Linked DNA regions of Homo sapiens. Changing the gene in region 2 together with the main gene of any one other region gives a genetic interaction. Each region holds a gene or a part of one and is shown on either strand. Other genes may lie near its edges.

What was found. Genes that interact genetically often act in the same process or in processes that back each other up.
Region 1: changes in MAP2K1 (region 2) and FH are lethal when combined (synthetic lethality), as found in Homo sapiens cells (one large-scale study listed by BioGRID).

Annotation. Positions count from the first base shown.
Region 1 is NC_000001.11:241,502,650-241,506,255, forward strand, and holds part of FH (fumarate hydratase, mitochondrial), read right to left. Parts: intron 3,520-3,606; coding exon 3,354-3,519; intron 1,597-3,353; coding exon 1,393-1,596; intron 1-1,392. UniProt on the Homo sapiens protein: Catalyzes the reversible stereospecific interconversion of fumarate to L-malate. Experiments in other species have demonstrated that specific isoforms of this protein act in defined pathways and favor one direction over the other.
Region 2 is NC_000015.10:66,385,412-66,389,011, reverse strand, and holds the start of MAP2K1 (dual specificity mitogen-activated protein kinase kinase 1), read right to left. Parts: upstream 2,101-3,600; 5' UTR 1,665-2,100; coding exon 1,585-1,664; intron 1-1,584. UniProt on the Homo sapiens protein: Dual specificity protein kinase which acts as an essential component of the MAP kinase signal transduction pathway.

The sequences.
Region 1 (3,606 bases), on a different chromosome or scaffold from region 2:
AAATAGAGTAAGATATACAATAAAGCAAGGCCCAACCATCAGTGTAATTTAATGAAACAAACCAACCAAGGAAGGTGGGATGGGTAGCCACAAAATGAATCATTCAAAGGCTAACGAGTAGCCACAACTACACATTAAATATAGTTCTCCACCTTCATGATTTTCATTCATTCTATACATATTTATGGAGCCAGGCACTCAATATACAACACTGAATAAGAAAGATGCAGGCCCTGCCCTCGCAGAACTTGGAGGCTAGGGAGAAAGAGCTGGCAATTATAAGGGGTAAATACAGAGTAGTGTATGCTGCTATCAGAACACTTATAAAAGCGACCCTTCACTAACACATGGGAGGCTTCCTAGGGGAAGGTGATGCTAAGCTAAAATTTTCCTATTTATCACGAGTCTCTGGAACCCCACTACCCTGCTCACACTCCTTGGACAAGCTCCAAGTTTGAATCAAACAACCCAGATTCCTCTGACCAGTACAAGTTAACACACTGGAAAGATTATTGGGTGGATTATTGCCTTTATCTGTGACTCCCCCAGTTCTCTTTCTTTTGGCAATCACCCTGGATTTGCAATCAACTAAACCTTTATGTCATTCTTCAACATGAAGTACTTTAAAACAAAATTTCATCTCTTCTTATTCTACAGATCCATAATTTCCATAAAAATCTAGAGTCAGGCCTTTCTCACTATTAAAAGTTACATTGTCAGTTTTAGCCCAAGCTACAGTGGCCTTTATGGATCTCAGTTCTGTCATCCATAGTATTGCTATCCCAACTTTGTTAACTGTTAATATGATTAGCATGTATTCTCTTCCTTCACCCTCAGTCACCAGTAAAGTGTTGAAGGGCAGAGCCCTTCAGCTTGTTACCAATATATTCTTCTAGACTGAAGTCACTTCATTAGTCACTTCTGAAATGTCACTGTTCACCCAGCTACATTCATCTGCCAGCACTGCCCACGCTTCTCCACTGGAATCAATGACTATCATGCGAATCTATCAAATGACTTGCTGAAATCCAGACATACACTGTTGTGTCACTTGCTATATCTAACAGGCATATAACGGAATGCAAAAAATGAAATAAGTGAAGTTTGGTATGACTTCTTTTTATTCAACCCGCGCTGATCACTTTAACAGCCTGCTCTACATTTTCTAATGTGGGATTCGAAATACTTGCTGCTAAGTCAGATTCTTTCTTCCTATCTTGTCAGGTGACGTGCCCAGCAGTCCTGACCAGAGGACCACAGACATGCTGGAACAGTGCGCCTTGCGCATCCAGCTGCGGGATAACTTTAAACAAAGAGAGACATGGTCCATAGCTAAGAATGCCTAGGACCTAGTCAAGTTTTAGCTCCAACATTTACTAGCTATGTGATTACCTGGCATGATACTGCTTCCTGGTTCATTTTCAGGCAAGATCAATTCTCCCAGACCTGACCGAGGACCAGAACCCAAAAATCGAATATCATTTGCTATCTTCATCAGACTGCAGGCAGTAGTGTTCATGGCTCCACTGAGCTCAACCAGAGCGTCATGAGCAGCCAGAGCTTCAAATTTATTCGGAGCAGTGACAAAAGGCAAGCCTAAAGAAAAGAAAAATATCCTAGATGGGTGAACAAGTTAAACTAAACATTTTTCTACCATTAGCAAGTGAAACAGAAAGTTCCAATATACGAAAAAATAAAAATTTTACTTCAGAAAAAAATGTTTACTTAAGACTCAAATTTTGTCTACATTTTTAAAAGAAGTCCTAAAGGAGTAGAAAGAATCTGGTATTACATTTTTTAAGTTTTTTCAGACAGGGTCTCACTCTGCTGCCCAGGCTGGAGTGCAGTGTGGCTCAATCACAGCTCACTGTAGCCTCAACCTCCATGGCTCAGGCAATCCTCCCACCTCAGCCTCCAGAGTAGCTAAGACTACAGGTGCACACCACCACGCCCAGCTAATTCTTTAATTTTTAGTAGAGATGGGGTTTCGCCATGTTGCCCAGGCTGGTCTCAAACTCCTAGGCTCTAGCGATCCACCCACCTTGGTCTCCTGAAGTGCTGGAATTACAGGAGTGTAATTCCACTGTGCTTAGCCAGGCACTACATTTTAAAAAGATGAAATAACAAGTATGATAAATGTACTGAAAGAAAAAACACAATCCTACTGCAAACACACGTATATGATGCCTGACTATGCTTGAGTAAAAAGTATATGGGAATTCATTCTGGTTTATACCACACTCCTTTCCTAATACCTTTTTTCTTTTTTTTTTTTTTGAGACAGAGTCTTGCTTTTTTAGCCAGGCTGGAGGGCAGTGGTACGATCTTGGCTCATTGCAACCTCCTCCTCCAGGGTTCCAGCAATTCTCCTGCCTCAGCCTCCCAAGTAGCTGGGGTTACAGGCGCCCGCCACCATGCCCGGCTAATTTTTTTAAATTTTTACTAGAGACAGGGTTTCGCCATGTTGACCAGGCTGGTCTCGAACTCCTGACCTCAAGTGATCTGCCCATCTTGGCCTCCCAAAGTGCTAGGATTACAGGTGTGAGCCCCCATGTCCGGCCCCTAATACAATTTTTTAAAGTTTCTTTGTCCACTTTACTGTGCTTCATCCTCTCCCCTAGCCAGGAGCCCACAAGATCCCCTATAAAAACAGTGTGCTAAAATGAGTTAGATGTTCTCAGTTAACCCCCATGTTAAAAATTTTATAAATCTACATTTGCCAAACCCTAAAAGTAGAGTTCTTTTCTATTAAAATATGGTTTAAAGACAAATCAGCTGGTAAGCTATCATGTGCAGTGTATAATTATCTCTACCCTAACCGTCTGGTAACATCTACATCTTAATGAGAGTTTTCTGAAGATGACAACTTGGCCCTAATAATAGTTATCATTATCTAAAGTATAATACTCTCTCTACTAAAGGAAAGACATGGTTCAAAAAGGTCAATAATTCAAAGAATTATCACAGCATGACATAATAGGAAAAAAAAGAAATTAAGTCTGTCTACAACATATTTACTATTCAAATAACTTACTCAACACTCAGTTTTTTCTGCCTATTTTGAAAACTGCTATTCAAAACTTTAAAGGGAAATTAATTGAAAACTAACTAGTAAACAAAGCTAACACTGGTAGATTTTAATGGCATGCTGTATAAACTCCTACATGGAACATTTTTTAAAAGGCAAATAATTAACATTATAACTTCAGAAATATACTTAAAACACATGTTTGATGGAAAAATATCATTTCTAACTTTAAATTCACAAGAATTCAAGACAGGAACACTCAGAAAATGTACAGACCACGTATAATGAGAAATGAAAATGAGAAATAATTCACGTGATCACTAACCTGTAAGTGCAGCCACTTTTGCAGCAACCTTTTCTGCAAAGCCAATTCTAGTATTTAAACCTGTACCAACAGCAGTGCCTCCAGCTGCGAGCTCATAGATTCTTGGCATGGCAGCTTTTATTCTTGTCATTGCATATTTTACTTGTTGAACATAACCACTAAATTCCTGAAAAGAAAAGAAAATTAAGGTAAGAATAAGTAATTCCTAATAGCTTACAAGTTACTCTAACTGCATTAAATAGAAATTTTTAAA
Region 2 (3,600 bases):
TCGCTTGAACCCGGGAGGCAGAGGCTGCAGTTAGCCAAGATCGCACCATTGCACTCCAGCCTGGGCAACAAGAGTGAAACTCCGACTCAAAAAAAAAAAAAAAAAAAGAACAAATGTTTGCAATGCAATAATGCAATCCAACTACCTATACAAGTCAGTATTATGCAAAATAGACCCCACAGGATTGAGAGGGGACTAAAGAAGAGAGTCTGTTGGGAGCAGGTCTGAAAAACACAGCTGAACACACACCACAGGTCCACCATCGACCTTGTGATCATTACAGGGATGGAACAAGTCATCAAGCCAACAGGTCCCCGGGTTATTAAAATCTAGAGAAAGTTGGCTGGGCATAGTGGCTCATGCCTGTAATCCCAGCACTTTGGGAGGATCGCTAGAGTCCAGGAGTTCAAGACCAGCCTAAGCAATATAGCAAGACCCCATCTGTATAAAAGTTTAAAAAATAAAATTTTCTAAAAATCTAGAGAAAGGAAGGGAGGTTACAGAAATCACCAAAGAGCATAAGGTCCAAGCCTATTCTGATTTCATCAATTAGCTTCCTAAAGTCTGCAGTGTGCAGGTAAAAGATTAAGAACCCAATCCTTATTGAAGGTTGGGCAAACAACAACCAAAAAAAGGCAAAAAAATAATAATAACCTAATCTTTTCTGGCTATTTCTCTAGCTAGCTAAGCAGCTTTCCCTCACATAGTCTTGTCCCTTACCTAGAACCCAAGAGAGTTGTGGGAGCTCAGAAACCCCCAGGAAACAGACTCATGATTATTTAATGAAATAAAGTGCTCGTTTGTAAGCAACGCTGGAAGCTGCAGAGATGGAGCACCTAGCATGTGGTTTCTAGGTCATGGTGTTCATGCCTCAGGTCAGGAGTTTAGGGGCTCCTGGTGAAGTACGGAAAGCTAGGAAATCATTAGTGAGAAAATGGTTTGTTCAATGAATGAATGAAGAGTAGGATGAAGAAGAAAGCCGCTTTCTTGAGCAATTTCCCAGGAAGGCCAAGTACCAGGAACCTCCAAAGTCAGCAAGGAAAAGCCACGAAGTCCACACGGACTTCCAGCACGCCCCCGCTGGCCAGGCAGTTGGCCTGCAACAAGGCACTCAGGCCCCACAGGTGTCAGGCATGAAGGTGAGGATGATGCTCCACACTTAATACCCTGAGCTGGTCTCAAAAGCACAGATGCGATCTTAATTCTTTCCAAAACATTAGCCTCCTCTCCCCGTTACAGGCCAGACTCCCAGATGATCACATTTAGAACAGAACTGGGAGGAGGCAGGGGAGACGTGCTAGCTTTTATTTTCTTGGGAGAAGACTGTACAGTGGCCAGGAACCACTAAAACGGTCGGGAAAAGGGGTACAGAGAGGAATGGAGACCCGCGGGATCCGCTAACTGGTCTGAGTCAGGAACACAATCAGTGCTTAGTCACCGATACCTCGGCGGCCGGGAGTTTCTCGCCCCCTGCCAGCCCCAGACGTACGTGACAAACCAGATCGGAGCCTGGCGCGCGCTCCTGCTCCCCGGCTCGGGCCTCCCCAGCCGGGCCCCGAGGTTCACCGCCCGCCCCATACTTACTCCGCAGAGCTGGTCCCGTTAACTGCAGAGCCGTCGGGGGCCGGGTTCAGCTGGATGGGCGTCGGCTTCTTCTTGGGCATTTTGGACCCGGGTAACGCGCTTCCAACTCCGGGGGGAGGGCAGCACCTCTCGCTTCCTCCCGCTGCGCTGCCCCGCGCCCGCTGCGCAGGACCAAGTCCGGGCCGCGGGCCCCGGGGCTGCCTTCAGCGGGTGCGCCCCGCGCGGTCCCGTCAGCGCCGAGGGGCCGGTAGCGGTCTCAGTGGACCCCCGCCCCACCCGCCCGGGACTCGGCTTCGCGCGCAGAGAGCCGAAAGGCTGCCCTGCAGGAGCGGAGCGGGCTGAACGTGCGGTTCGGCAGCCCGGGATTCCCTTCCTCTCTCTCTCTCAACCAACCAGTCCCTCCGGCTCGGGCGGCACAGCCGCGCGCGCACCAGAGCCCAGCTCCAGCTCCTGCCGGGGAAAGTGCCGCCGCCGCCGTGCTCCTAGCCGCTCTGCGAAGCGGCCCTGGGAGGGACTGGAGGCCGGGGGAGGGGCGGGGAAGGGGAAGCCTCGCCTCCCACCCGGGATGCGGCGCTTTCCACACTCCCACTCGGCTCCGCCCCTATTGCCTCGCAGACAACCAATGGGGGCAAGCCTCGGCGGCAGATGACGCGGAAATACGTCACGGGAGCGCGGCGCACTGCCTGGGGGCGGGGTCCGTCGCGGACGCCGTGGCGCCCTCTGTCGCCCCGAGGCAAGCAGGTGGACCCAGCTGAGAAGAAGTCTGTGTCGCTGTGTGGTGAGCTCTCCAGGCCAGGTGCCGCGCGGCCTCCACCTCTGCGGTAACCGGCCTGCCCCCGACCCCTGTCCCCAAGCCGAGCCGTGTTGACGAAAATGAAATAACAAAATAAATAAGGAAAAGGACCCCTTCCTGTGTCCAGAGGAGAGGCAGCGTGGGGAATAGGAAACTTGTCGAGAGGCTCCTTTGAGCCCAACAAACTGACGCATATAAATTTTGTTTGTTTAATGGTAATACTACTGAGAAGGGTGCAAGGAAATGGATACTCAGTGCTGATGAGATTGTAAATTGTTGCGACAGTTTTTGAGAGCAGATTGATGATTTTTTTTTTTTTAGACTTGGGAACTTTTTTTTTTTTAAGACGGTGTCTCCCTCAGTTGCCCAGCCTGGAGTGTAGTGGCGCGATCTCCGCTAACTACCACCTCTGCCTCCCACGTTCAAGCGATTCTCCTGCCTCAGTCTCCTGAGTAGCTGGGATTACAGGCACTCGCCGTCATGCCCGGATCCTTTTTGTATTTTTGTAGAAACGGGTTTTCACCATGTTGGCAATATTTTTTTAAAGCCTTAAAAACACTCTTTCGGGCCAGGAGCGGTGGCTCACGCCTGTAATCCCAATTTTGGGAGGCCCAGGCAAGAGGATCACTTGAGCCCAGGAGTTCGAGACTAGCCTGGGCAACATAGTGAGTCCCCCGTCTCTATTAGCTGGGCATGGTTGTGTGCAGCTGTCGTCCAAGCTACTGAGGAGGCTGAGGCTGGAGGATCACTTGAGCCCAGGAGTTTGAGGCTGCAGTGAGCTATGATCACACCACTGCACACCAGCCAGGGCTACAGAGCAAGACTCCCTTTAAAAAAACTTTCATCCAGGCCAGGCGCGGTGGCTCACGCCTGTAATTCCAGAACTTTGGGAGGCCGAGACGGGTGGATCACGAGGTCAGGAGTTCAAGACCAGCCTGGCCAAGATGGTGAAACCCATCTCTACTAAAAATACAAAAAATTAGCTGGGCGTGGTGGCGGGTGCCTGTAATCCCAACTACTTGGGGGGCTGAGGCAGAGAATTGCTTGAACTCGGGAGGCGGAGGTTGCAGTGATCCAAGATCACACCACTGCACTCCAGCCTGGGCGACAGAGTGAGACCCCGTCTCAAAAAAAAAAAGAACTTTAATCCAAAAATTCCAATTCTGTGAATTACTAAAGAAATAAGATGTGAATAAAGAGCTTAATAAGAGGCACAATACCCA